Homo sapiens: one gene and its partners. The protein of the gene in region 1 purifies or fractionates together with the protein of each later gene. This does not show direct contact. Each region holds a gene or a part of one and is shown in the gene's direction. Other genes may lie near its edges. The genes, in order: LGALS9, SLC12A7, SLC12A2 and ATG9A.

Region 1 (7,019 bases):
CTGTTTCTTTTCCTTTTCCATCTTCTAGAGGCTGCCTGCAGGCCTTGGCTTATGACCCCTCCTGCCATCTTTAAAACCAGCAGCTTTGGCTGGGCCCAGTGGCTCATGCCTATAATCCCAGCACTTTGAGAAGCCGAGGCAGGAGGATCTCCTTAATCCAGGAGTTTGAGACCAGCCTGGGCCACAAAGTGAGACCACGTCTCTACAAAAAATAGACAAACATTAGCCAGGTGTGGTGGTGCATGCCTGTAGTCCTAGCTACCTGGGAGGCGGAGGTGGGAGGGTCACGTGAGCCTGAGGAAGTGGAGGCTACAGTGAGCTGAGATCGCGTCAACACACTCCAGCCTGGCTGACAGAATGAGATCCTGTCTCAAAAAAAACAAAAAACAAAAAACGAAAACAAACAAAAACCCCCCAAAAACGCAAACCAGCTTCTTCTTGCTTCTGTGCTTCTGTTGTCACATCTCCTACCTCTGACACTGATCCTCCTGCCTTCCTTTTATAGGATCCTTGTGATCACATTGGGACCACCTTTAAAATCAGGACAATCTCCCCATGCCAAAATTACTAATTTAATCACATCTACAAAGTCCCTTCTACAACATATTCACAGTTTCCGGGGATTCGAATGTGGATGTTTCTGGGGGGTGGCCCACTGGTAACCAGTGTTATAAGTTTCTTATAAATCCTTCCAGATATATTTTATCTATAAATAAATAAATGCAAGTCCATAGACTTCCCCCACCCACTTTTTATACAAATGGCATCATTCCATATCAGTGCTCAGAGTTCTGTCTTCCTCTTTTTCTTTTCTTTTTAAGGCTACACAGAACCTATTAAATGGAAATACCCTAATTTATTTCACCTTTTTCCTGTCAGAGGACTTTTAAGCTCTTTCCAATGCTTTGCTTTATAATCCTTTGTGTTATAATGCTGCAATGAATAACCTTGTTTGTAGGATGATATTCAATTTAAAAACTCATTTTTCAGGCCAGGCATGATGGTTCATGCCTGAAATCTTGGCCCTTTGGGAGGCCGAGCCGGAAGGATCACTTGAGCTAGCCCAGGCAACACATAGAGACCCCATCTTTACAAAAAATATTGTAAGATTAGTGGGACATGGTGGCCTGCACCTATTTTGTCCCAGCTATTCGGGAGGTTGAGGCGGGAGGATTACTTGAGCCAGGGGGTGGAGGCTGCAGTGAACCATGATCACAGCCCTCACTGAACTCCAGCCTGGGCAACAGAGTGAGAACCCATCTCTAAATAAATAAATAAATAAATAAATAAATAAATAAATAAATAAATAATCTTGTTTTTCCGAATTTTGGGGGCACTATTTAAGATATTTTGAAACCTCACAGAGCTTTTTTGGGGAACTTGTTGCCTTGGAGATTAGCCTGTCCTGTCCCGCCCCCATGATCTGTACTTCCTCTTTCTCCCTCCTGGCTTCCTTAATTAAGCCTTGTGTGTACTTGCCAGCCCATGTCCATCACGCTCTGCCTTCAATTCTAGATGCTGTGCTGTGAATACACTTAAGTGGAGGCCGCATGCTTCCCAGGAGGGTGTGTATTTTCAGTGTTGTGTCTCATGATAGTATGAAAGGCTCTGGAGAGAATCACAGGCTTCCACAAACAGGCAAGGAGAAAAATGTTCCACAGACATGTTTCAGGGAAAACAGGCTTCCCAATCCTAGGCCGTGCTGGTCCATAATTGGATCAGGCTGACTCTCCTTCCCCTACACTGCTGGTGTAGACAGGGACAAGAATGAGAAGTCAGAGACACAGAGAAGCTGTGATTTGCTTGAGGTCACTAAAGTACTTAATGGCAGAGTTCAGACCTGACCTGAGGGGCAACAAAAGACACCCCCCTCAAATCCATGGGGAGCAGAGTCTAACTGAATCAGATCCCAGATTTCCTGGGGCTCTCACGGTGCCAGGTGTGTACACTGAGCTAGGATGGGTTTCCCAGGGTTCTGTGTGGTCACACAACTCAACAATACAGACCAGAAAGCAGTGGCAAGTAGGCTGAATTTGGCTGGTGGGTGTTTTCTGTTTGGCCTGCACAGTGTTTCTTTTAACGTTTTATTATAGGAAATTCAAACATGCAGAAGGAATTGTACCATCAACAACACACACCCATCACTCTGCTCCAACAATGATCAACTCAGGCCTATCTTGCTTCATCCTATACCCTCCCTCGCTTGCTTCCTTCCCACCCTCAGATATGTGGAAGCAAATCCAAAGATACCATTCCATTTCAAATATTTCATTTTGTATCTCTATAATATGGGAATTTGGGGGGTTTCAAGACAGGATTTCACTTTGTTGCCCAGGCTGGAGTACAGTGGTGTGATCATGGCTCACTGCAGCCTCCACCTCCCAGGCTCAAGGGATCCTCCCACCTCAGCCTCCCAAGTAACTAGAGTTAAAGGTGTGCACCACCACACCTAGCTATTTTTTTTTTATTTTTTGTAGAGATGGGGGTCCCATTACGTTGTTCAGGCTGGCCTCAAACTCCTGGGCTCAAGTGATCCTTCTGCCTCAGCCTCCCAAAGTGCTGGGATTATAGATGTGAGCCACTGTGCCCAGCCAGGAGCTTTTACATAATCCTTTTTGACAAATTTTCCCCCAAGAAATTAGAAAGTTTTATAGAAAAAAAAAATCCGGACTTCTGTCTTCTCTTAAAAATTTGGAAGCTCTGCCAATACTGGGCCCAGATGGCAATCACTGCTTAGCACGGAGTAGATGTTGACTTTTCAGATGAGGGGTGTGACATCTACTTTGCCACAGTCCCCACCACTCCCCCACCTGGCCATCTCACCCATACACATCACCTGCCTGGCTCCTTTAGGCATTTAATTTGTGTAGGAAATTGACCTAAAGGAGATATTAGAGAAGACATTAAAAACTTGAAGAATGTGAAAATCAGCCAGGAGATAGAACTGTGCTTTAATGCGGGTTATAGAACGACATTGGATATGAAGCATTTTGGGAATAAACTTTGAAAATTGGAAGTACCAGTTTGTGAATTTTGCTGAGAGAGATGAAGGTGGGGGGTGGGTGACAGTGGTGAAGCATCTCCTATGTGCCAGTCTCTTTTACCACAGGCTGTTTCTCACAAAATCATCAATCATATGCAGCAGGTGAAACACCTTCCTATTTTACAGATGAGGAAACTGAGGCACAGAGAGGTGAAATAGGCTTCCCAAGGTCACTCAGGTCATGAGCAGCAGAGCTAGGATTCAGACCTGGAGTTGGCCTGACTCTAAAACGATGCATGCCTCACCATGGCCCATCACTCCTTTAAAGAGCACCAGAAGAGAGAATTTGACAAAGTGGTTGCCCGTGGGGCCTGGGATGGGTGGGGAAACCACGCTAGGCCTCGGGGCTGCTGAGGGCCTGAGGGAAGGAATGGGGAGCCCGGGCACAGAAATAGAGGAGGGGGCTGCCCCACGGCTACAGAAGGCATCTGGGAAGACGCTCTGCTGAAGGTGGCCAGGAGGGCAAAGGTCACAGTGGCCATTGTTATATGGTGGTGGTGGGGAGAGGGGGATGGCTTCTTCTTAACCTCCTCGGGTGAGTCGAAGGTTTACCCTCCAGACCCTTGATGGGTCCCTTTGGTCCCTTGGGCTTCCTGAGTCTCCAGCCAGGGCCTGGGACCTTTGCTGGGAGCTTAGCATGGGGTCCAGCAGCCCCCATTGCTACCTAATTCCTTAGCAGCCCAGGGTGTCTGCCTGCTACTTCCCTGCCTGGAAGGAAGGCCTTCTGCCTGGTGCATTCCTGCTGCAGCCTCCACTGCCTCTTAGACTCTCACACAAGCTCAGCTCCCTGTCGCGTCCTCTCAGGGCCAGGCTTCTCCTTATCACAAGCTTAGACTGTCTGAGTAACTAATTGGATTTGTGTTTGCCTCCACACAGGACCCTAAGACCCGTGGGGCTGCGACTCCCTCTGTACTGGTCACAGCCGCACCCTATCCCCTTGCATGGGGCTGTCAAACCCAGGCTGGCCACTGACTAGCGCTGGAGGGGAGCAAACGGGAGGCCGGCCACCTGACTGATGTTCCCACACCTTCTCCCTGCAGGCTGTCCCCTTTTCTGGGACTATTCAAGGAGGTCTCCAGGACGGACTTCAGATCACTGTCAATGGGACCGTTCTCAGCTCCAGTGGAACCAGGTGTGTGTGTATATGGATGGAAACGTTTCACTCCAGCCTCGTCCCTTAGTAAACCACTGTGCCTGTGAGCCTGGGTTAGTTCAAACAGCAACATCCAAGCTCACGTGCCTGGCTCAGGGGAGGCCCAATGCGTCCCTAACCCATGCCACAGGGCAGCACTCCACAGGCACAACCTGCACCCAGGGGTGCCATTAACCTGGACTCCAGGATGAATGGGGCCCTGGGAGCTGACGGTCTAAGGAGGGCGTGGGATGGTCAGAGTTGGATGATTATGTTCTGGGTTGAACCTTGCACACTGTGACTAAGAGTTGCAAAAATCAAACTTCCTCCATTTCCCGTAACTGCTCTCATCCACTCTGAAGCTCTCCTTCTGCTGATGTGAAAATATTGAAAATTGCCATCAAAAGTAATTTGGTCTCTTTTGGTTTCAAGGCCTTTTCTAGAAACTACTAAGTCAATTCAACATACTAACATTGTATCAGGGCTGTTTCCCACCCCCTCCTCCCTCCCAAGGTGGGCTGTCTGGGAACAGAGAAGAGCTCACATGGCTTCTCAGTGGCTGGGAGGGCTCTAGACCCTCACTCAGGCCTGGCTGACCCCTGCCGAGGCACCCCGACCGGGTGGCACAGAGGTGTGCAGCTCTCTCCTGGTTTAGTGGGGGACCATGGGTGGCTGCCTGCTGAACTCTGCGGGGCCCACAGAAGAGCCTCTGGACTCATGACTCTCTCTCGGAAGCCTCTCTGCCTCAGTCCCAGGGGACCTCTCCTTAAGACCTTCTGGGCCTCACAGATCCCAGCTAAACCTCAGCTTGGACACCTAGATTCTTGGTGACCTCCTCCGCCATTGCCATCCTGCTGTGGGACTTCTCTGAGAGACTGCGGTGCCCTCAGGAGATGCCAAGGGCAGGGAGGCCCCGATCTCCCTGAACCCTCCAACCAGGGGAATCAGGACCATGACCCTGATCTTCCGCCCCTTCCTCTCTCCCTCTCCCTCCACCTCCCCCACCCCCCAGCACCAGGAGGGCTTCCCACTCCCATCCTGTCATATAGAGACAGATCCTACCTCAGAGGGCCCTCTCCTCTTGGGAGCTTTCTGTCTCTCCCTTCCTTGGGGCAGGAATTTCGAAAGGACTACAGGGATGAAGCTGAAGGACTCCAAAGGAAAAAATACATGCAGATATATTTCAAATGCAATCTTCTCCATTTATTCATTTAATTAATTAATTTTTTTCTTTTGAGACAGGGACTTTCTTTCACCCAGCCTGGAGTTCAGTGGTATGATCATAGCTCACTGCAGCCTCAAATTCCTGGGCTTGAGTGATCCTCCCATCTCAGCCTCCGGAGCAGCTGGGACTACAGGAGTGCACTATGATGCCCAGCTAATTATTATTATTATTATTTTGAGATGGAGTCTCGCTCTGCCACCAGGCTGGAGTGCTGTGGCGCTATCTGGGCTCACTACAACCTCCGCCTCCTGGGTTCAAGTGATTCTCCTGCCTCAGCCTCCTGAGTAGCTGGGACTACAGGCTCATGCCACCATGCCTGGCTCATTTTTTGTATTTTTAGTCGAGACGGGGTTTTACCATGTTGGCCAGGATGGTCTCGAACTCCAGACCTCGTGATCCACATGCCTCAGCCTCCCAAAGTGCTGGGATTACAGGCGTGAGCCATCATGCCCAGCCAATTTTTTTTTTTTTAACTAGAGATGAGCTCTCACTATGTTGCCCAGGCTGGTCTCAAACTCCTGGGCTCAAGTGGTCCACCCGCCTTGGCCTCTGCGCCCAGCCCCAATTTCACATGCTCTTTACATTTGTTCTCTTCTTTCCCATTTAATCAGGCATGTGCTGGCCTCCAACAAGTGTCCACTGGCACAGAAGGCTCTCTCTTCTAGGTGTGCTTAACAACTTCCATCTTCGGTATCAATTGGTAATCACTTTCCAAGACCTATGTTTCTTGTTTGCTAATACCAGCACTTTTCCTTAACCGTTTTCTATTTGCTTTTAGCAAATCATGCTGTAAAGGCAAAATCCAATAATTAAAACAAAAACACATTAGATCCCAATTAGAAAAACAAAAACGATGCCAACAAAGCAGTCTCTGCCATACAGGTTGTGTGCAAGATCCAGACAAATGCAAAGCACAGGCGCCGAGGCCCTCCTGTGCCTGTCACTGGCAATAATCCATGCCACAGAAGACTATTTGCTTTCCCTGGGCCTAGGTTTGCTGTGAACTTTCAGACTGGCTTCAGTGGAAATGACATTGCCTTCCACTTCAACCCTCGGTTTGAAGATGGAGGGTACGTGGTGTGCAACACGAGGCAGAACGGAAGCTGGGGGCCCGAGGAGAGGAAGACACACATGCCTTTCCAGAAGGGGATGCCCTTTGACCTCTGCTTCCTGGTGCAGAGCTCAGATTTCAAGGTGAGCAAGAATCCCCTCCCCACCTCTCACCCCTGGGACCCCCAGCCCTATCAGGTGAATGGCCTTTAAGTAATCACCTAAATTGACATTCAGCCAGAGTGACACCACTATACAGATAACACGCTCATTTCCTTGTGAGGTGTTACCCATGGCTGCCTAGTCTCCTTATGCACCTTCATCTGAATCTACAGGTGCACCTGCTGCTTCTTTTACTCTGAAAATAAGAACTAGAGGAGTCATCACGTTGCTATTTGGTGTTGTGTGTCTTTGAATTCCAAGCTCATTCCATTCCTCTGCTATAGCCATTCCTCCTCTCCAGGTCACTGGTAACATTTATTTTTCAGCGACATCGTTCCAGCCTTTATCCAGGGTCTATTAAGGGTATAGTTTTGTAAGCACATTGCAAATTACCCTTGCAAGCAGAG
Region 2 (7,643 bases), on another chromosome or scaffold:
TTATGTGAGTTACACTTTGAGAGAAGGAAAGCCACACACGTGGTCTAAAAATCCTGGAGCCTCCTGAGTGAGGGGAAGAGTGTGTCGGACTCATCCACGGAATCTTCCAGAGGGAACTTGAGCGAAGACTCAGTGTCCGTGAATTACAGGACTGAGAGCTTTGTCGCTCAAGCTTGACCTTCTGTTGGCGTCACTTACAGTCTCAGACACAGATGGTCTGAGACGAGCTCTGTGGGAGGGGAGGCCCCTTCTATTCCCAGATTCAGCTCCATGGGATGTACCCCTGCCCAGCAGGCACAGGACCCGGGGGAGGCTCAGAACCCCACGTACCTGGCCACTGTGCAGACAGGCTCCCCAGCGCCAGGCCAGGCCCACCATCCACCAGGCCCAGAGGCCCCGCCCTGGGCAAGCCAGGGATCGGGGCGGGGGGCAGCTTGCGGTGCCTGCCTGGGAAGAGCCTGGCATTGTTTGCAGAACCCTTGGGACAGGGCTGCTTCTTCAGGGGAGATGCAGCCATGGGCCTGGGGCTGTGGCTGGGGTCTTCTGTCATCCCTGCCTACCACAGCTCCCTTCGAGCCCCCACAGGTGGTGGCGGATGTGGGGCTTTAGGGCCACCCTGGCCATGGGCAGAATTCTCGGCCCTGGTGGGACTCCTGGGCAGGGAGAGTGTGGGTCCCACAGGTGGCCGGAGACTCTGCTTCCTCCACTGATGTCCACATACCCCACCCTGCCAGGAGAGGCTCACCACGCTTAAAAAAAAAAAGGTTTGTTTTTTAAAAATCACTTTAGCCTTGGGTAACTGGGGCCTCCCTTCCCTCTCCTCCCTTCCCACCTCTTTCCTTTCCCTCCCCCTTCCCCCGATTCTCCTTCCTCCCCTCTCTCTTCTGCTCTGCCCTATTCGCTCTCTCCCCCACTCACCATGGGTGCTGGGCCAACAGGCAAGAACCTGGGTGGGTGCCCGGCCCTGCCAGGCAGAAGGCGGGTGGCTTTCTGGTGAGAAGGAGTGTGGGGCCTCCAGGGCCGGCCTCCTCCAGGTGTCCCCTTCCCTGGACACGGAGCTCTCCACGGACACTCTGCCTGCCAGCCCCACCTGCATCCTTCAGCCCTGGAGGTGCGCCCTGCCTGATACCCGACAGCAGGTTCCCAGCCCAGAAGGATGCAGATGGCGCACCAGGAGATGAGCCCCCCACCCTAACAGGAAAGCAGAAGTGGACTGGGGGGACCCGCGGACCTGGGGAGAAGCTCCGTGGGCAGAGGCACACAGATACCTGGAGGCAGCCTGCGTCTGGTGAGAGCCCTCCCAGGCCACAGCCCTGATTCCAAGCCGTGGGCACGAGCGGCCTCCTGGCTTGGAAGCTGGCATTGGGTGTCCGTCCTAATCCATTAGAAACTCCACCCCAGGGTGGCAGGCAGCAGGGACTGTTTCGAGAATCTACACACAGAATGTAACCACCATCGGCTACACTTTCGCACTAAATCCCAGGGTTCCCCTGGCTGTGCCCTGCACACGGCCAAGAGGCCATCGCAGATGACCAGGCTCACATCATAAGGATGCGAGATTGCATTTGAAGAGGCCCCCTGGGCAAAGCTGGACACCGATGCTTGGAAAGGGCACTAATGGTGATCGACTGAGACCCACCAATGTGTTTCATCAGCGATGTACAAATATACTTGGGAGATTGTCGGGAACCAATTCACCGTTGTGGAAACTGACAAATGAGGGAGAGGCACCCTTGCCCTGCCTTTCCTGTGGGCACCATTATCCAGATGGCCAGACGGACAAGATGAGCCTCTCCCTCCAGTGAATTCATGACGAAGCCACCACGCACTGGAAAATCACCATTTTGCTCCATGAATCTGTCGATTCAGACATCAAGCACCAACGACTGCGGACGGAGGAGCTACCACCAGACAGTGCGTGGCTCCCTCTGCGAGCCCCCGGCCTTGCCAGGGGACTGGACCCGGATCCCAGCAGTCCCCTGGCTCCAGGTGCCCACTTCCAGGAGACGCAGAGGCCTGCACCGAAAGATGCAGCTCCAACCCAGGCCTCGGGTACCTCCACGTGTCCGAGGGCCACTTCCTACAACAGGTGCCGGGTACAGAAAAGGACAGAGGGATGGAGGTGGGTAGGAAGAGAGCACTGAAAGTCACACAACGCACATTTAACCCCAGGCTGCCGTGTGGGAGGATATACGTGGACACGGAAACCCACAGAGCGAAGGGAGGGGCCACCAGACCCCTAGGGATGGGCTACTGATGGGATGGGAGGGGCCTGCAGCGGCTTCTGGGCTCCGGCAAGGGTCTCTGTCTTGACCCGCAGGTGCTTACAGGGTGCTGATCCCTGTCGTGACTCACCTGATTAGAATGCAAAAGGCAGCAGACCTCACCCCCCACCCGAGGTCTCCCACAAGTAAGATCTAAGATTTAAACAAGAGAAGCCACCTGCCTTCTGCCTGGCAGGGCTGGGCACCCACCCAGGTGCTTCAGCCATGGCCCCTGGTCCTAGTCAAGATTTTGTAATCACAGAGAAGACCACCCTCGGAGCTGCCACAGGACCCTAAACTCCTGGGCCTCAGTTTCCTCCTCTGTAAAATGAAGCTGATGAGTCCTGAGTCCGGGAGCTGGCCCTGGCCACAGACCCTCCAAACCAGCTCCTCTGAAGGTCCACAGCCAGCACATGGCGGGCAGCCGGCCCTGGGGTCCTGGGGTGTGAAGCAGAGCTTGGATGTGCGACGGGAGCCCTGCACATCTGTTGCTCCTGCTGGCATCACTTGGGAAGGCCTCGTGCCCACCCTGAGCTCTGTCCAACCCTCGGGAATAGCGCTGGGTGGCAACCAGGGTTGAATGTACAGAAGCCCCTGCTGGGGTGACTGAGGAGAGGGTTTACCCAGCACCCTAAGTGTGAACCCTATAATTGACCCCATTGGGCACTTCTGTTCCCACCCCCTGGATCTTTTTAGCAAAGCCAGCCCTCCTCATAAGGATGCCTGGGAACTATTTTATCTTCTGGGGAGGTGATGGTTTCCTACCTTCCAACCCACTGACCCAGGGAGGCAGCTGACCTAGCACCATCCACAGCCCTGAGCTCCCTTTGGTGGGAGGTGGGGTGAGAGTGTGGAGCAGGCACAGCTCCAGACACCCAGGCCAGAGGAACCCCCACCTCTGCAAGGGCTGGTGCTGGATGGGCGACGTTCCAGGAGGGTCCCAGGCCTACAGCTTCTGCCCAGAAGAGTCCATGGGGCAAAGGGGTAGAACCCTAGGCCACCCCAGGGCATGACTGGCTTTACTGGAAATGGCTGGAGAGGTTGGGCTTGCGTTCCTTGAACCCACAGAGCCCGGTGATCCCACAGCCCGGAGGCCATCACTCCCCTCCAGCTGCCTTTTAGGATTAGACAGGCAAGCGGCTAAAACATGGCCAGGCCATACCCATTTTCCACGTGACAAGAGGCTGTGGCCGTGTTTGCCCACACCACCTGTGTTTCTGCTTTGTTGTCGTACAGCAGTTGTGGGTGATTAGGAATAAAGGCTGACTCATTGCACCTGTGTGCCATAGCATTTTAGCCCAATTCCCCATTGACGGACATCTGATTGTTCCGTTTTTCATGAGTCATTTGTTGAGAAATGTGCCAGGTGCTGGCCGGTGGTATCCTGGTGTCTGCCTGGTGGGTTCTGGAACTCCACCTTCCCTGCATCACCCTGTGAGCTTCTGGAACATTTCCCAAGGAGGGAAGGGAGGGTTCTAGGGCAGGGGCCGCGGGGCACTCCTGGGGCAGGTGTGGAGGAGACTGGGGTCTTCGTGGGTGGTATTTGTCATGGGTGGGGGGGGGGACTCCCTCTACTGGGTTAGGTCCCTAAACTGGAGCTGGACCAAGCTCCGGAGTACCCCACCCCCAGGCTATCCAAGGCTCCTTCCACTGGAGTTGCCTTTGCAGCCAGGTTGGGCTAGCCAGGAGCCAGGCTAGGAGCCCAGGGTCTGAGCGGGTGTTGACAGCCTGGAGTGGGTGGGCGGACTGTGTGGGAGGTGGGTGCTGGAGGATGGCAGGGGGGAACAGGAGGGGGAAGAAGGAGGGGTAGGGGGCTGGAGCAGGAAATGGGGGGCAAACAGGAGGGGGTGCGGGAGGGGGCGCAGAAGGAGGAGGGGCCCAGCAGGAGGGGGTGCAGAAAGGGCAGGGGTTCCAGCAGGAGGGGGTTCATAGGGGCAGGGGGGCCCAGCAGGAGGGGGTGCAGGAAGGGTGGGGGGGTGCAGGAGGGGTGAGGGGTTCCAGCAGAAGGGCGTGCAGGAGGGGCAGGGGGCTGGAGCAGGAGTGGGGGGTCGGGGAAGGGGACAAGAGGGGAGGCGGGGAGGGGGCCGGGGAGGGCGGGGAGGGCGGGGAGTTCCAGCAGGAGGGGCAGGGGGCTGGAGCAGGAGGGGGTGCAGGAGACTGAGCGGGGATTCGCGGGCTCTGCGATGGTCGGGAGCGCAGGCAGCGAAAGCCCCGCGTCCCGGGTCGCGGCGGTCAGACAGACGCAGCCTGGGTTGGGGTCCCTGCAGGAAGTCGCCGCGGGCCAACTTTTCGTGGGGCCGCGGGGCAAGCAGGTGAAGTCACGTGGCCCGGGCGGGGCGGGGCGGCTCGGTCGGACCCCGCCCCTGCCTCCAAGTCCCGTGGCGTCGGCGGGAGCGGCGCAGCGCGGGCCGGGCCGGGACGGGGACTGTCGGCTGCAGGCGGCCATGCCCACCAACTTCACCGTGGTGCCCGTGGAGGCTCACGCCGACGGCGGCGGGGACGAGACTGCCGAGCGGACGGAGGCTCCGGGCACCCCCGAGGGCCCCGAGCCCGAGCGCCCCAGCCCGGGTGAGCGCGGCCGCACCTGGCCGGACAAAGGCCGAGCGCCCCGAGCGCGGGTCTGGGCCCGGCATCCGGGAGCGGAGGCGGGCGGCGGGGCCGGGGGTACAGGAGGCGCCCCTTCCCGCGCCCCCACCGCCTGTTCTCGGTCCCCCACGAGGGCCCCCACCCCACGTTAGTGGCAGCGCTAGGGGGCGAGGGGCCCTGCCAGGGCTCCCGGTACGGTCAGCTCGGGTGGGACCGGGGGCAGAGGTGTGGACGCCGCTGCTGGTAGCCATGGAAACGGGGAGGGGCTGGAGCGCGCCTCCGGAGGGAGCCCGGGCCCCTGGGTGGTCCCTAGTGGGACAGGGGTGGCGGTGGAGACCCGGGCGGTTCGGGAGCCGGGGCGTCCTGCGTCCCCCGCGCTCTCCCTTCCCCTGCGCCGCGGCCGTCCGGTAACACTAGCCCGGGCCGGCCCGTCCTGCCCCCGCCTGACCCTGGAGGAGCCGCCCACCCCCCAGAGGCGGAACAGGAAGGACTGCGCCCTGGCTGGGGAGGGGGCAGCCACCGGGGCCTTGCTCAGGCCGCGTCCTCCGTGTTCCCGTCCCCCGTTCCGGGAATCTGGAGGTTTCTAGCACTTTCACTTTCTCTAGGGGGTGGGGACGGGGCTGGGGAGAGAATCCCCCAGCCCTGTTCCCTCCATCCTGGCTCCAAATCCCAGTTACTCCCCGGATCTCAGCCCCCTCTAGAAACCGGAGGCTCTTAGGCCCTTCCATCCGGAGTCTCTGAGAAGGTGTCCGGACTCAGTCCAGCCCCCACCCCGCGTGCTGGCAGTGCCCGCATGTGCCCGGGTCTCATGCAGTGGGTGGCAGCCTCCCTGCTCCCTGGCAGTGGAAGGAAGGTGAGGTCTGTCCAGGGACAAGTCCGGTGCCAGACCCCAGATCCTTCCTAACCCACCATCCCGGGCAGGAAAGGCCAGACATCCCCTCCAGGCAGTTTAGGAACCCGGAGACACGGGTGGGGACCCACCGTGAAGGCAGTGGCCTGGTGGCCTGGGGTGCGTCATCAGGGTCCCCGTGGCGGGCGAAGAGTGGTCTCAGCTTCCTCTGCACAGAGGCCAGCCCAGATCTTGGAAGTGGTCAGGCGGGGCGCCAGGCTCAACACCAGGTGAAGTGCTAACTAAGCAGGGTCCGTGAGTCCAAGCCCCTTCTCTCCAGTCACCACCGTGGAGGCAGGAAGCACCAAGGAGTGTGGGCCCTGGCGTGGTCTTTCTGTGTGAGCTTTGTAGCAACGCCCCCGGAACGCACTCAGAAGGAGCCTCTTCTTGTCTGGCCGGCCCCTTCTCAAGGCTGATCAGGTTCACTTTTGTCTTTAGACTGTAAGTGTCATTTGCTTTTAAGCCAGAGAGAATTTTGTGCTTGTTCGTTTTCTTGTCTCTTCTACTCTCAAGGCTGTTGAGCAGTGCCCTGGGCCTGTGTCTGCCCAGCAGGAAGTGGCCCTGGCTGAGCGCTGCCCATGTCGCTGCCCGCGCACTCAGGTCCTGCTACGGGCGTGTCAGGAGGCTCCCTGGCCTTCATGAAATTGAGAACGGGAGGGCATGGGCCAGGTGTGGGCTTCTGGACACTTTTGAGGGTGGCCCTGTGGTGTGAGCTGAACTTGGGAGATTTCTCCGAACTGGCAGAGAACTTGCACCTGGCGCTTTTGTGCTGGACCCGCTTCCTACTTCCACAGAAAGGGCCCGGTGCCCAGCCACTGCCAGGCTGTAACGGGCACGCAGCTGCCCTTCGGAATCCACTTGATCACATCCTGATCTTCAGCCCACAGAGGTGCGGCGAGGAGTCCCGTGATGGGCACGGAGCCTGGGGAAGGAGGCACAGGCTTTGCTTTTTGGTGGTGGTTGGGGGCGGGGGTCCTGCAGAAGCCGGAGCCCCTCCCAAAGGCCTTCTGTGTGGGGTCCACACCACAAGGTCACAGGCCAGGTCCAAAACTGTCCGGCCACAGAGTTACCAGCACCCAAGCTCTTCCTGACTCCATTGCCGTTCCCCTGAACGGTCTGTGGAGGTACTGGAGCTTCTGGGCTGGCGCCTGGGTGACGGCGAAGCAAGTTTGGGGGGCCTGGTGGGCTGATCCTAGGCACTGCCAGGTGGGCGTGGAGAGGGCGTCCTGAGCCACCCCAACTTGAGGAGCAGGGGCCTTGGTGTCCCCAGCCTGGGTTGGGGGGTTCTGGGGAAAGAGGGGTAGATGCTGCTGCCCGGGCTGCCTGGCTCGACCCAGAGCCCAGCAAGGCCGCGTCTGCCCAGCCTGGCTCCAGGGGCCTTCTGTCCCCGACCCCTGCAGCTTCCCTGCTGCTTCTGGTGGAGCCTCTGCGGGAGGCGTCCTGTCCCGGGGATGGGCACTGTGCCCTCAGCACTTCTTGGGACGGAGCTTTTATTCTTATGTGAAATACCTCGTCTTGAAATGAGAAGGACGTGTTAACCCTCAGTTTCTCAGTGGGGTGGTTTTTTGAGAGTAGGAGGTGGGAGGACACTGCTGGGGGCCGGCTGCGTCTCGTCCGACTTCAGGGTAGAGTGGGTTTTGTAACTGACTTGGGGGAGCCCACCCTTCCTCCGTGACCACATCAGGGTAGACTCACTCCTTCCCAGGTTGTAGGGGTGCGTCCAGAGGCCTCGGAGACCCTGGGAGGGGTGGGAAAGGAGGGCTGGCCAGTGCCCCGGCCTGTCTGGAAGGTGCAGCGTGCAGAGCCTCTGTCAAGGTCCCACAGGCCCTGGCCACCCACTGTCTAGGAGGGACTTCCACTCGTCTGGGGCTCCCTGGGCTGGGAGAGGGTGGGTCCTGCCTTGT
Region 3 (7,228 bases), on another chromosome or scaffold:
AATGTATAGATTTTGGCACAGTATCCAGGACCTAAATTCTCTATAAAGGCTAACTACTATTACTACTATCAACTCACAGCTAGATTAGTGAAATTGTGTCCTGACTTTCCATGCTTATTCTTCCTCTTCTCCACTCTTCTGCTCATAATATAACTAGTTTTATTTTTATTTATTTATTTTTTGAGACAGTGTCTCACTCTGTCGCCCAGGCTGGGTGCTGTGGCACAATCATAGCTCACTACAACCCCCACCTCAAGTGATCCTCCCACCTCAGCCTCCCAGGGAGCTGGGAATACAGGTGCGTGCCACCACGCCCCACTAATTTTTGAATTTTTGTGGGTTTTTTTGGTAGAGATGGGGTTTCATTATTGTTGTCCAGGCTGGTCTCGAATTCCTGAGCTCAAGCCATATACCCGCCTTGGCCTCCCAAGTGCTGGGATTACAGGTGTGAGCCACCTTGCCAGGCCTAGAGAGTTTTAATAAGCACAAATCTGATTATGTGCCCCTCAATCTATCCAGAAACCCATTAATGCTTTTATAGGGCTTTTAGAATACAGACACATCTCTTACTACTTTTGCCCCCAATCCTTCCCTATGCTTTAACCAAACTGATTTCAAGCTTCTTGCTTCTTTGATAGTCCCTGCTCACTCCATGAGGGCATTTGTCCACAATATTTCCCTTGTTGGAAACCCTCTAGTGACAATTTGGTCCTAATTTTCCTTTAGACCTTTGCTAAAAAGTCACTTCTGTCTTGACTAAGTCTGGCCTATTTTGCATTTTCCTTATACTACGTTCCTATCCCCTAGAACTTCTGTTTGCAGTTACAAATTTATATGAGTGACTACTATTTATTATTAATACACATTTGTGTGTTTCTTCCAACAGACATCTCAGACTAAGCTCCTGATATTCATCCAACCCAAACCTGTTCCTTTAACCTCCTTTGCCATCTCAGAAAATAGCAATACTATTCTTCCAGTTGCTGAGGTCAAAACCCTTGGACTCTCACACTTCACATCCATCAGCAAATTCTATTGTTTCCCCAGAATTCAACTACTTTTCCCCATTTCCACTGATACCCACTGTGGTCAAAGCGCTATCATCACTTCCTGGATTGCTGTAATACCTCTTAACACATCTCCTTGCTTCTTTGACCCAACCATTTATCCCTTGCCTACCTACAAGACAGCTAGATGAATCCTTTAAAAATGGCAGATGTCATTCCTCCACTGAAACCTTCCAATAACCTGCCATCTGCCAAGGACTGTTGTGTACCCTGCTAAATTAATATGTTGAAGCCCGAATCCTCTCCTCACTCCTATGTGACTGTATTGGAGACAGTCCTTTTAAGGAGATAATTAAGGTTAAATGAGGTGATCAGGGTAAAGCCCTGATTCCACAGAACTGGTGCCCTTATAAGAAAAGAGACAACGCTCTCTTTATCATCTGAGGAGACATTGAGAAGGTACTGTCTGCAAGCCAAAAAGAAAACCCGAACATGATCATGCTGGCATTCTGATCTCAGACTTCCAGCAGGCAGAACTGTGAGAAAATATATTTCTACTGTTTGAGCCACCCAATCTATGTATTTTGTTATGGCAGCCTGAGCTGACTAACACACTATTCTACTAAAAAAGTCAAGTATGTCTAACAGCCAAAAAAGGTCCTAAACATTCTGATCTACTACATCCCATATCCTAAGCTCTCTGATGTAATTGCCTTTGATTCTTCACATCTCTTAAGCAAGTTCCAGCCAAACTGGCTTACATGCAATTCCGTGAGCATGCTAAGCATGCTCCTGCCTTTGGGTCTTTGGTTTCCCTCTGCTTCAGACACTTTTTTTCCCAAGAACTCATATCACTCACTTCCTTACTCAAATATCACCTTCTCAGTGAGGCCATCCTATGGAAAATTTTATGATCCTCATTTCACACAAATATCCCATTTCCCTTTCCTTAGTACTCACTGCTTGGATGCTATGTATTTTACCTATTTATCTTGTCTATTGTTTCTCTTTCTCACTAGAAAGAACTCCATGAGAGATGGGATTGTCCGTTTTGCTCACTGCTATATCCCGTAAATACAGAGTAGCTCATAGTACCTGTTCAGTATTTATTCAACTAAATGAATGTTGAATTCCAATAGTGGCAGAATTCGTTGTGGAGCTGAAAGGTACTGCACGGATCAACTACTAATGCAGCAATTCCCTAGTAGAAAACTGCACTGCTTAAAGGACCACCTCATTTTTCTGGCCTCCTCTGGTTATTACTAAAGCTCAAAAGGAGCTTTAAAAATCCTGATGCAACAGCTGTTTTCCCCTCTCACCGTCTTTAAAAATAGAGATAATAAAATAGCCTGAAAAGTTGTCAAGTTCAAGTAAGATCATGTTTATGACAATTTTTTGAAAATTGCCTGGTTGCAGCTTTTACTTACAGCATTTTCAAACAGTTCTGCCAACTCTGTGGCTCTTTCATCATGTTTCAAGTGTTCAGCAAACGATGGTGTTCGTCTCCATAAAGTCAAAGTTTAAAAATACAAGGGCCGGGCGCGGTGGCTCATGCCTGTAATCCCAGCACTTGGAGAGGCGGAGGTGGGCGGATCACGAGGTCAGGAGATCGAGACCATCCTGGCTAACACGGTGAAACCCCGACTCTACTAAAAATACAAAAAATTAGCAGGGCGTGATGGCGGGCGCCTGTAGTCCCAACTACTCAGGAGGCTGAGGCAGGAGGAGAATGGCGTGAACCCAGGAGGCGGAGTTTGCAGTGAGCCAAGATCGCACCCCTGCACTACAGCTTGGGCGACAGAGCGAGACTCCGTCTCAAAAAAAAAAAAAAAAAGTACATAAATAAAAACCAAGTAATTGGAGGACGCCATTCATTGATTTTACTTAGGACTTTGGGCATAATCTATAGGTTTAAAAATTTCTGCTGCTAAGAAAGTGGGAACACAGTTATATTCCCTTACATTTTACCGAAGAGAAACTAGACCTGCAGAGGAGTACCTTTCTGTTTCTATATAAGCAGAGGAATTCTGCACAACCCAAATCACGCAGAAACCTCCTGGTAAGGACTCCACGGGTAGTTATTGCCGGCATTGTATTCTGAGAGATGAGCTGCATATCACTTTTGGAAATGCCTTAAATTAAAACTCGTCTTGAAACAACATGACGTCTCAAAGAAGCTCCCTTCTCACCTTGGAACATCAGCTTTTAAAATAAAGGTGTCATCAGAAGTGTGTAGACACCCACTGCATCACAACTGGAACTGATCTCTGGTTATGCCAATCTAGGTCTGCCTGGCAGGGTGAGTCTACCGCTCGAAAGCTGCACAGAGGAAATCCTCCCTCCTCCAGGTTCAGGCCCGGAGTTACGAGCGGAGATTCGCGGCGGCGGGTCAGAGCCCAGAGCAAACCAGGCTGGGGAACGCACCTCGCCCGCGGCTCCGGAAGCGGCTGCGGCCCCGACCGGAAAGCCCCCAGCATCGCCCGAAGGAATCGCGGCTGGCCTGCGGCTCCGGCCCGGCCTCGGGTACCACGCGCCTAGTGGGAAGCCGCACTGACGCCTGCAGCATCTCGCGAGATTTCGGGCTCAGCCCAAGTACTGCGAGTTCACCAAAGCGGGGGGAAAAAAAAAAAGCCAGCGTGCGAGAGCCTCTGAAGCCGTGGCTGGGGCGCTGGGGTGGCAGCTGCCGCGGGAGCATCAGCTACCGGCGTGAGGCGAGGCAGGGCACGCGCGCCGTCCGCAGCCCCGTTGCCTGGGCTGCAGGTCCACTGACGCGCGGCCCCTGGGTGGAGAGAGGGGAGGTGGCCTGGGAGCCCGCTCCTTTTCGCCGCAGAGCGCGGCGGGGGAGGGAGGTGAAGGCGTGGGAGGAAGGCGGCGGAAGAGGAGGTAGCCGCGCGGAGATCCTCCCGGCGACATCACTGAGGCGGAGCGTAGCCGCGCCTGCTCCCCGATCGCGCCGTTCGTGCTGCCCGCACTGCCCGAGGCCCTTTGCGGACTGGCTGGCCGCGCTCTTCGCACGGGGCGCTTTTGCGTGGGGTCGCGCAGGAGCCGCGGAGGGCCGGATCGCTGAGGGAGCGTCAGCCGCGCGCCGCTGCGGGACCGCGGGTGGGCGGGCTGAGGGGCGGAGGAGCCTCCGGCCCCGCCTCCCGCGTGCTGCTGCCGGAGCCGCCGCCGCCGCAGCCCCGCCGAGGCTTTAAACAGCGGGGCCCGCCCCGCGCCCGCCACACTCGCGCGCTCGCTCGGCTGCCGGTGGCCTCTGTGGCCGTCCAGGCTAGCGGCGGCCCGCAGGCGGCGGGGAGAAAGACTCTCTCACCTGGTCTTGCGGCTGTGGCCACCGCCGGCCAGGGGTGTGGAGGGCGTGCTGCCGGAGACGTCCGCCGGGCTCTGCAGTTCCGCCGGGGGTCGGGCAGCTATGGAGCCGCGGCCCACGGCGCCCTCCTCCGGCGCCCCGGGACTGGCCGGGGTCGGGGAGACGCCGTCAGCCGCTGCGCTGGCCGCAGCCAGGGTGGAACTGCCCGGCACGGCTGTGCCCTCGGTGCCGGAGGATGCTGCGCCCGCGAGCCGGGACGGCGGCGGGGTCCGCGATGAGGGCCCCGCGGCGGCCGGGGACGGGCTGGGCAGACCCTTGGGGCCCACCCCGAGCCAGAGCCGTTTCCAGGTGGACCTGGTTTCCGAGAACGCCGGGCGGGCCGCTGCTGCGGCGGCGGCGGCGGCGGCGGCAGCGGCGGCGGCTGGTGCTGGGGCGGGGGCCAAGCAGACCCCCGCGGACGGGGAAGCCAGCGGCGAGAGCGAGCCGGCTAAAGGCAGCGAGGAAGCCAAGGGCCGCTTCCGCGTGAACTTCGTGGACCCAGCTGCCTCCTCGTCGGCTGAAGACAGCCTGTCAGATGCTGCCGGGGTCGGAGTCGACGGGCCCAACGTGAGCTTCCAGAACGGCGGGGACACGGTGCTGAGCGAGGGCAGCAGCCTGCACTCCGGCGGCGGCGGCGGCAGTGGGCACCACCAGCACTACTATTATGATACCCACACCAACACCTACTACCTGCGCACCTTCGGCCACAACACCATGGACGCTGTGCCCAGGATCGATCACTACCGGCACACAGCCGCGCAGCTGGGCGAGAAGCTGCTCCGGCCTAGCCTGGCGGAGCTCCACGACGAGCTGGAAAAGGTGAGCTCGCCCAGCCCTCCCTTCTTCCCCAGCCCCTGGTGCATGCCGACCGCGGGATGTGGCTGCAGACTCTTCCCGAGTTGAGGTGGCGGGAGTAGTAGACGTGCACGACTTGCTGGCATCTCTGGATTCAGCTGTCAAGGGTGGAATTGCCGAGGAATGTTAACTTAATCTCTCAAAAGTTTGTAGCGGGTTTGGCTAGTTACGTGATACCGGAGGGCTGCCTCTAACAACCTTCCCCATCCAGTTAGGTATCTCGTGTGCACTTTCTTTCCCACCCACGCTCAACAGTCACCATCCCTCTGAATGACAGTAGTGTTTGTGGGCCCTTTAGAGGAGAATGTGCAGTGAGGATCTCTCGAGAGAGGTTGGAGAGCACCTACCATCTGTGTCGTTTTGAAAGATTGTGTTGTGTGGCTTATGTACGCCTATTAGGGATCGCAAGAGTGGGAATGTTGCTGTTTGAAGGAAAACCTTAACAGGGTGTGTTTATGGTCTATGAGTTATTAAAGCTCAATTCTTGCAATCTTGAATATACAAAGGATCATAGAGATCTTGTCTTGGGACACGCTGTTCCTAATAATGGCATAACTCTTTTTTTTTGCGATGAAAACGTTTTGGGAGAGGTGTATATTTAAAAAAAAAGGGACAGAGGCGAGTCTTTAAAGAAAAAAGGGAAACAGGAGAATTGGTTTTTCTGTAGAGGATGACCAGAAAGACCTGTGGGGTCTTTGCCATAAGCAGTTACACTTTGTAAACAGAAAACCATCCCCATAAACTCATTGATTTTTGTAACTATTTTTTATGGTCACATAAGACTTATTTCTTCAGCGTTCAATGTCACTGTTTTGAGATAACATTGATGCTTTTGAGATTTCGTTAATGTTTAACTTTTTTATGAGCCGGGATTACTTGAAGTCTTCCTTTACAAGTGTGTAATGACTACATTGATGGAATTTGTGAACGCAAGAGGATGGTACCACATAGGTTGAAATGATCACAGTTTGGACAAGTTTAAATCCAGTATGTGATTTCTTTTGGATATGATTATTTGATCTCATACAGTGATTTCATACAAGATTGTACTTGTCCCAGTGTTTGATAATGTAACATTCACACAGAGGTAATTACAGAGCTCTTACAGCTTATTGATTGTTTAAAAGCCTGAGATCATTTAGCTTTAGATAATACTATTCTTGTTATTCCATTGTGGTATTTTGTCATAATCAGAAGCAAAACAATGTCTAAAACATTTTTTATTCATACTCCTGTAGTTTCTATCAAGTCTATTCTTTTTTCTTTTCAAAACTCAAAAATCATTGTAGACAAAAGTAGATATGGAGCTGGCAATTTTCATTATCTTAGGACAGTTTTACTAATGAAAATATTATACAGATATATTTTAGATTTATTTTACCAAAGCCAAGTATGTGAGCAGTAAAGTGATCTGTATTTACCCATAAGTTTTAGAAAGACATCCAATTGAAAGGTATATATGTTGAGCTTATATGCTTCCTAGGGAAGTTTTTGCTACTTTAAATTAAATTATCTCAATAACAAAGCACTTCAAGTTCTCCAAAACTTTAGATTTGTGTGTTTGTGTTTTTTGCTTGGCTTTTTGGTTCAAAGTATCTAAAAAACAACACCTGTACTGTTAGTTGTATGGTAGTTGAAGAAATCACCCAACCTCTTAGCTTCAGCTTTTCAGGGTTATCATGAAGATTAGAAAAAAAGCGCAATAAAAATGACCATGTTCAGTGCCTGGAAAATAATACCTAGTTGTTATTTCCCTCTTATATTGGCCCTTCAGAAGACTCTAGGATCTCAATTTTAGATTCTGTTAATTCTTACGTTATTAGGTGAATGTAGTATATAAATATTATGTTCAGTTTCATTTATGCAACAGGTACTTTAATTCTTTGTAGTTTACCTTCTGCCACTCATAATCTTTATGGCCACTGTTTTATTGGCTTAACTAATAACTACATGTTGAAGATAATTTTGCTTAGAATTTTAGCAGATGGATTAAAGAAATGGGTGTTAAGTAGTACAAATA
Region 4 (7,789 bases), on another chromosome or scaffold:
TAGACACTGTGGGTGTGTGTTTAAATAAGGAAATGGGTCAGTTATGAGAGTAGGGAATTTGCCAGTGCATTTTTAGGACAGAAACTCAGATCTGACAGTTGCCAGATAGTAATCAAACCCTGTTTGGGAGATTCCTCATTCTGCCCCAGCGCTTCCTTTTCATCCCTGCAGATCTTTCTTATTTCTTCCTCAGTAGGCTTCTTTCTCTCCTCTCTTACTGTTTTCCAGTGTGTCTGAGGTGAGTGCAGTCTGACTGCTTCCCGAGGGTCTTCTTCTGCCATAAAAGAAAAGATCTTTCTCAACCTTAGCTGAGGAGAAGCTAGCGCAGGTTTCTCTCAATGCAGATGTAGCTGGGCTGCAGTCCAAGGCTTAGAAAATCCTCTGGATATACCAATGAGAATGGAGGCTTAGGTTGGAGAGAACAGGAAGGTCTAGGGAATTGGGATCTGGAGCAAAGGCTCACCATAGACATGCAAAGTGGTCAGCTTATGGAGCACACGCTGTAGCTCTTGGAAGGTGGGTCTGCGGGTGGCGAGGGGGATATCCCAAAGTCGGGGATCCCCCCTTTGCAGGGGTGCTCCCTTGCCTCCAAAGAACAAAGACCGGCCAGAGCGGGGAGCACGCAACAGTATTGTACCAGCCTCCTCCAGCGCCTTAGCCCAGCTTGGCCCTGCCAGCAGGTCACGAACATCCTAGAGAAGAGAGTAACTCAGTCCTGCATACCTTCACTTGCTATTTATAAATCTCCAACTAAAAAAAATGGCCCACAGAAGTGCAAGGGGTGGAAAGTAGAGGATAACACGGAGAAAGAATAGAGGACTAAGGCTCCTGGGGAATCCCTCATCTACCTTTGTCTACCTATAATGAAAATTGGAAGGATATGAGTCAAAAACCTCCCTACTTAACAGTGAGTTGAACAGAGATGCAAAAAAAGTATGGATCAGTACCACCAGATCTAAAAGGCTTAACTCACCTTATATAGTGTGGCTTCATTGTAGCGCCTCAGGTTGGCTCCAGCAGAGTGTGATGGCCCACCTCGGGCATCCCGAAGCCCCTGGGCTGTGCCCCGCTTGGCCCGAACCGTATAGCGGTGAAAAGTTTTGTGTGTCACCACTTCTCTTCTGTAGACAGCACAGACTCAGTACTGGAGACCAGCTGGTGCTCCCTGGCTAACAGGATCCACTCCATCCTTACCCCCATGCAGCACCCTCTCACCCTTGAAATATAGCACCAGCAAAGTGCCCAGCTGCAGCCATGAGCACCACGCAGTCTCTGGGACCTCTACTTTGCAGGTTCTGTAGCAGCAGTTCTGCCTCTTCTGGGGGATCCTTGATGACAGAGAAGCATCAGAAACATATCTGTTGCATTCACTGAGAGCAAGAAACTAAGGGCCAATTTTCACAAACATTATCTCATTTAATATTACCACCCTGAGGCTTGTTTCCATTTGACAAACAAGGAAATTTGAGGCTTGGCGAGGCAGTCAAGATGAAGTGGTAGAATCACAATTCAAACCTAAATTGGTTTGTTTCCAAACTTAATTCCATTACACTTAACCCTTCCACAATTCAGGCCAGTTTCAATTCAAGACTATGTTGTCAAGCGTGATACCCACAACCAACAGGAAGGAAGAGAAGCAGGGAGAAATGCACTAGGCTAAGGGAAATCTAGGCTGGGTGTACAAAAGGCTGGGGTTAGCCATGCAACCTGTACTGTCACTTGCCTGATGAGGGCCTAGGACACAGCGGTAGGCATAAAGAAACTGGCCCTGGGCATTCTGGAAAAGAACTCGATGAGGGTAAAAGCCTGGGGGTCGGCTCAACTTCTCAAATGTAGCCCTCTCCCGATCCAGTGTCTGCAAGTCCTCCTCACTGGCTGAGTCTGAGTCTTCTGATCCCGAGATGCTGGAAAGATCTCCTGAAGACAGACAATATGAGATACACAAGTTTGGTACCCCATTTTTGTTCTTTCCTCAAACTCTAAACTAGTGCTTTCTTATACCTCCATGTCCTACTCCTACATAGGTCCCCCTACCACTCATCACCTGTGGAGCTCTGCTTTTCAAAGTCCAGGGCAGACAGGAGAGGCTTGTCCTTGAGACGTTGCTTTAGGTTAAACCGATGCCAGTCAAGCTTATAATGTTCCCTCTAGTACAAAGACAAAGAGTGAGATAAAGGTGGAAATATGCCCCAGCCTGGCCTTGTACTGGCCAAGACCAGTTATAGTATTCTAGGAAGTACAACCAGGTAACACCAACTGCCTCAGTCAAAGCATGGACCTTTATTAAGACAAATCAAATGTCTACCTCTCCCCACCCACCATTACACTTTTGCTTCTAACATCTAGCTCTGCACCTGACCTATTACCTGTTCTTGGTGGTTCTGGAAGGTCTGGTCACAAGTTGAACAAAATAACTTCTCTGAAATATCCATAGGACCCTGGAGTAGCTTTCTTTCTGGGCTTTCTCTCTCCCCTGAGCCTAAATAAGGGAAGAGGAATTGGACATAGAAAGGGAGCCCAAATCCACAGTGACAAGAATTATATTCAGAGTGTGATATACAAAGCAGAGGAGGATACAAAAGAGATGGCATGATACTGCCTTCAAGGAATTTACACTCTAATAGTCATGAAATAAACAGTACAGCAATCACTTAATGCAATAAACATGCTTCTGAAAACATGTACGTAAAATGAATGTAAATAAAATAAAATTGGCCAGGTGCAGCGGCTCACGCTTGTAATCCCAGCACTTTGGGAGGCCAAGGCAGACGGATCATGAAGTCAGGAGATCAAGACCATCCTGGCTAACACGGTGAAACCCCGTCTCTACTAAAAATACAAAAAATTAACCGGGTGTGGTGGCGGATGCCTGTAGTCCCAGCTACTTGGGAGGCTGAGGCAGGAGAACGGCATGAACCGGGGAGGCGGAGCTTGCAGTGAGCCGAGATCACACCACTGCACTCCAGCCTGGGCAACAGAACGAGACTCTGTCTCAAAAAAGATGAAGAAAAATAAAATAAATAAAACGAATGTAAATAAAAACTGGCCCTGGGCATTCTGGAAAAGAATCCGATGAGGGTAAAAGCCTTGGGGTCGGTTAAACTTCTCCAACGTAGCCCTCTCCCGAGATCCAGCGTCTGCAAGTCCTCCCCACTGGCTGAGTTTGAGTCTTGTCTAATTTAAATTAGCCAAACAGATTGTTTAGGTGAATCCTAAAGAAAATAATTTCTGTTCAGTTTAAAATTATTTTTCACTGCACAAAAACTACTTCCCAAATGCTTTTTAAAGTTTACATTTCCAATTAGTGTACAGTTTGTCTAAGGAGAGGTGCAAGAAAAGATGTAGCCAAACTAAAGTTACACAAAACAGGACCGACACGGTGGCTCATGCCTGTAATCTCAGCACTTTGGGAGGCTGACCCAGGCGGATCACTTGAGGCCAGGAGTTTGAGACCAGCCTGGCCAACATGGTGAAACCCCGTCTCTACTAAAAATACAATAATTAGCCGGGCATGGTGGTGCGGGCCTGTAGTCCCAGCTACTCGGGAGGCTGAGGCAGGAGAATCACTTGAACCCGGGAGACGGAGATTGCAGTGGGTGGAGATCGTGCCACTGCACTTTAGCCTGGGCGACAGAGCGAGACTCTCAAAAAATAAAGCTATACGAAACAAATAATAAATTGTTTCATATTCAGCAAAAAGGAATAATTTGAGTGGGGCCTGGTTAAATGTGGAATACATCTGAGAATTTTATCTCTACAAAGTTTAAAGTGTTTTTGAAGGGAATGGTGTTAACGTGAGGAGATACATGCAATGGCAAAAAGACTTGTTTGAAAACAAGGGCTGTGCTGGACATTACCCAGAGATTAAGTGAATTTAATCAAGCAGAAAGATAAATCAATTGGCCTCCTAAGCTCGGGAATACCAATAAGAATGTGTTCCCTGAACGGGCAATACGCTGTAAGGAGCCCTGTCACGTTTCACACGAAACCTTCCAGGATACCTGAACAGGAAGTACGCGGAGCCCGGGCCAGAGCCTCCCCAGGCGCGTGGCTCACCAGGCTCAGGCCCTGAAAGACCGGAGCATCCGCGCTGAGGTCAAACAGGGAGATCGACGCAGGAGCCGGGGCTGCATCTGGAGCCGGCGACATGGCTGAGCAGAAATTATTTAGCAGCAGCTCCTGGAGTAGAAAGCGTGTAAGAAACAGGGCTCCTGCAAACGAGATCCTACTGCTGCGTCTCCTGCCTGCCTGACTTGGTTTCTCCTGCACCGCAAGACTTCTCGTCTCTCATCCTGCTACCAACTGTGAGATGAATACCTTGGCCCCCGTCCACTTTCTCAAACCCCCAGTCTCAGCCCACAAAAGAATGAAATAGGCATTCGGCTCCCAAATCGAGTCCAACAGAGTTAAAAATCACTGAGCTTGCCTAGCCGAACTTTCTTCGTTACCCATGCGACCAGCAACAACTGGCCCGCGTAAACTCGCCCACGCCCTTAGAAGACGCACCAAACGTCCCGGGAGCTGAGCGGCTCGCAAGTCCTCAGGTCGATTGCCGGATTTCTGCAACACAACAATCCCCGTCACTACGGAGCAGCGAAGAGGACAACCGGCGGCGTCCGCACCTGAGCCCCGCCCCACGTAGAGCACACTATTGGGCCGCTGACTGTCCAAGACCCGCCTCGAGACTTTAGTCCCGTCCCTGAAGCCGAGAATTGGCCGTTGTGTCTCCGCCCCCCGTGCTTATTGGCCAGCCTGGCTGCGGGTGACAGTGAGTGGCAGACACCCGGCCTAGCGCCGCGGGTCGCGCCGAGCCGAGCCGAGCCGAGCGGAGCCGGCGGAGCCTCTGGAATCACCCGGGTCGCTGTTCCTGAGGTAAGACGTGAGACCGGTTATTGGAATCCCAGGCCCCGTGTCTGGCCTTGCCCAGGGGTGCCTGCGGAGCCCTAAGTGAGCTCGCGGCGGGTAACGGAGGAAGGGGCGCCGCCGGCGGGGCGGGGGCGCGCAGCCGGAATGTTTTGATTGCTGGCGCGCGCAGACGGGGGCGCGCGCGGGCGCCGGGGCCGCGCGCGAGGTTGTCCGCTGTTGGGAGCTGCCAGCCCTTGGCCTGGGGCCGGGCGACCCTGGGGCGAGGTGGACTCCGGTCCACGGTCGCCGCGGCTGGGTGTGGGGAGGCAAGCCAACCCACCCGGGCTATCAGCTGTAAGGCTGACTCGATCCCTGCAACATCCGCAGGAACCCCTGAGCCCAGGCCCAGCCGGCCGGGGCTCCACGGGCCCTGGTCCACACTGACCCTGTGAGTGGTGACTTCCCTGAGGGGCAGGGCTCTCACTAGCCCAGGGAATCCCACCGGGGCCAGGCTGGGCCAAGATCCACGGCCCCCAGGGGCTGCACGGACAGGTGAGTACCACCTCGACCATGCCTGGCTTACAGGACCTAGGGAACCCACAAATTCACCTAGGATCGGGGGTCTACACTGACCCAGTCAAGGTTTCCCATCCAGAAGGTTTGCTCACCGGCTGGATCTTTGGTGCTAGGGAAGTAAGAGAAGGGGTTGACCAGAAAGGTCCTCTTCAGGAAAGACTCTTGAGGTTTTGTGGACCCTGAGAAGTATGTCATTTCTGAGGCTAAGGTAGGGCAATGGAGAAATAGTCCAGAGGCGCCCCTGGCCTCAGGTCTGTACCCACTCATTCTCCATGGGGTCCCTAAGTTACTTCTTGAGACCCTGGAGTTGGAAGAGTGGCCCGGTTTAGCACAGCCAGAGGAAGTGCTCGTAGTCCTGGGCTGGAAGGGTGCTTCTTCCCCACTGCAGCCTTCCTGCCCCATGCTTGGCCTCCTCTTGGTGGGGTGTGGATGGCTGGGAGGGTTGGGTTCCTTTTTATCCCCACTGCCCACTCTCTGGGGCCTGACATCTTCTCCTCCAGCAGCTGCAGAGCATCGAGGGCTGGAGAGGAGCACATACTGTCCATGGAGCTGGTAGGGCCATGTGCTTTTCTCAAACATTTGTTTGTGAAGTGCTTCCAAACTGTTAGTCTCTTGGGAGACCAGGGTTCCCAGGATGGGCGGGGGAGGGACTCTTCTGTCCGTTAAATAGAAGATGAAACAGCCCCCAACAAAGGGACAGATTCTGGCTTTGGGCCAGGAAAGCAGCAGTAGACACCCAGACTGGCCAGAGTTAAGGCTCCCCCAGCCCTGAGCTTACTGCCTTTCTTGTGTCACTACTCCTCTGCCTCTGAGCCAAGGAGGCTGGTAGTGGACAAAGCCCAAGGGTACTTTCTCCTTTTGGCAGTAGGCAGGGCAGCCCATGGGCAGCAGCTGGAACTGAATCAGGGTCTCTTCTTCCTCCTTATTGGCAGGTGGTCAAGGTGGACAGGGGGCGGTGGTGATGGCGCAGTTTGACACTGAATACCAGCGCCTAGAGGCCTCCTATAGTGATTCACCCCCAGGGGAGGAGGACCTGTTGGTGCACGTCGCCGAGGGGAGCAAGTGTGAGTTCTTGGATATGACAGCCATAGGGAGAGTTGATGGAAGAACATGGAGAGAGCAAGGGGCTTGTGTTCTCCCAGGGCTCTGACATCTCTGTTCCTATCCCACAGCACCTTGGCACCATATTGAAAACCTTGACCTCTTCTTCTCTCGAATATCCTTTGTGTTTCTGAGTTGGAGCTCTGGGACCTTTAATGTCTCTCTAAGCCGGGGCTCTGGTGGGAGGTGGGGGTAGGTTTGACTCTAATACCTGGAAACGGGAATGGAGCTCATCCTGAGGCTGAAAGAGGCTGGTGAAATCATCGTTAAGTAATGATAGCCCACATTTACCAAGATCTGTGTGCCTGTGTCCACTTTGTGGTGTTAATTTGTAGAAGCCTTTCTAAGGGTGAGCCTCCTTTTTTTTTTGTTTGAGATGGAGTCTGTCTCTGTTGCTGCTAGAGTCCAGGGGCGATCTCAACACACTGCAACCTCCACCTCCTGGGTTCAAGAGATTCTCCTGCCTCAGTCTCCCACGTAGCTGGGATTACAGGCACCTGCCACGATGCCCAGCTATTTTTTGTATTTTTCATAGAGACAGGGTTTCACCATGTGGCAAGGCTGGTCTCGAACTCCTGACCTCAAGTGATCCACCTGCCTTGCCCTCCCAAAGTGTTAGGATTACAGGCGTGAGCCACCACACCCAGCCGAGCCTCCTTTTTGATGGGATGTAAATAATCGTAATAAGTAACGTCTTTTGACTCATTCTGTGTCAGCTCTGTGTTAAATGCTTTACATGCATTATCTTAGACCTAATACTCCTATGAGACAAGTGTTATTTATTCCTAATGTACCACCATGGACAGACAAAAGTTTAGACAGGTTAAGTAACTTGGTAAAGTCACACAGCTAGAAAGTCACAGAGCCAGGACTTAAGCTTGAGTGTGTTGACACCAAAGTCTGTGCTCTTACCTGCTTTCTTTACTGACTACTTTTTCTTAACAATTACACGTTTATAATCTGCACCAGAAGAATGGCTTCACATGTATGCTCATCGGGGAGATCTTTGAGCTCATGTAAGTATAAGAAGGGACAGATGATGTGGTGAAAGAATACATCTTAGTCTTTCCTCTCCTTGCACTCACACTTGGCCCAACCTGCCAGTACAACTCAGTCCTAGGCTAAAACTCCGTAAACCTTTGTAGTTCAGGGACTGGGTGTGGCACCAAAACTTACAGCTTCACCTTTCTTTTTTTTTGAGATGGAGTGAGTCTCACTCTGTCGCCCAGGCAGGAGTGCAGTGGTCTTGGCTCGGTGCAACCTCTGC

What was found.
Region 2: the proteins of LGALS9 (region 1) and SLC12A7 purify together in Homo sapiens (affinity purification with mass spectrometry; 4 studies listed by BioGRID and IntAct, with this or other methods). This does not show direct contact.
Region 3: the proteins of LGALS9 (region 1) and SLC12A2 purify together in Homo sapiens (affinity purification with mass spectrometry; 4 studies listed by BioGRID and IntAct, with this or other methods). This does not show direct contact.
Region 4: the proteins of LGALS9 (region 1) and ATG9A purify together in Homo sapiens (affinity purification with mass spectrometry; 4 studies listed by BioGRID and IntAct, with this or other methods). This does not show direct contact.

Annotation. Positions count from the first base shown.
Region 1 is NC_000017.11:27,634,180-27,641,198, forward strand, and holds part of LGALS9 (galectin-9), read left to right. Parts: intron 1-4,083; coding exon 4,084-4,175; intron 4,176-6,392; coding exon 6,393-6,594; intron 6,595-7,019. UniProt on the Homo sapiens protein: Binds galactosides. Has high affinity for the Forssman pentasaccharide. Ligand for HAVCR2/TIM3. Binding to HAVCR2 induces T-helper type 1 lymphocyte (Th1) death.
Region 2 is NC_000005.10:1,109,057-1,116,699, reverse strand, and holds the start of SLC12A7 (solute carrier family 12 member 7), read left to right. Parts: upstream 1-4,636; 5' UTR 4,637-4,708; coding exon 4,709-4,832; intron 4,833-6,098; exon of another isoform or gene 6,099-6,180; intron 6,181-7,643. UniProt on the Homo sapiens protein: Mediates electroneutral potassium-chloride cotransport when activated by cell swelling. May mediate K(+) uptake into Deiters' cells in the cochlea and contribute to K(+) recycling in the inner ear.
Region 3 is NC_000005.10:128,079,539-128,086,766, forward strand, and holds the start of SLC12A2 (solute carrier family 12 member 2), read left to right. Parts: upstream 1-4,227; 5' UTR 4,228-4,416; coding exon 4,417-5,172; intron 5,173-7,228. UniProt on the Homo sapiens protein: Cation-chloride cotransporter which mediates the electroneutral transport of chloride, potassium and/or sodium ions across the membrane. Plays a vital role in the regulation of ionic balance and cell volume.
Region 4 is NC_000002.12:219,226,618-219,234,406, reverse strand, and holds the start of ATG9A (autophagy-related protein 9A), read left to right. Parts: upstream 1-4,770; 5' UTR 4,771-4,872; intron 4,873-5,921; 5' UTR 5,922-5,973; intron 5,974-6,353; 5' UTR 6,354-6,382; coding exon 6,383-6,485; intron 6,486-6,593; coding exon 6,594-6,637; intron 6,638-7,473; coding exon 7,474-7,538; intron 7,539-7,789. Other genes in the region: tRNA endonuclease ANKZF1, read right to left, coding at 119-274, 464-692, 974-1,121, 1,216-1,328, 1,724-1,917, 2,045-2,147, 2,367-2,479, 4,002-4,149. UniProt on the Homo sapiens protein: Phospholipid scramblase involved in autophagy by mediating autophagosomal membrane expansion. Cycles between the preautophagosomal structure/phagophore assembly site (PAS) and the cytoplasmic vesicle pool and supplies membrane for the growing autophagosome.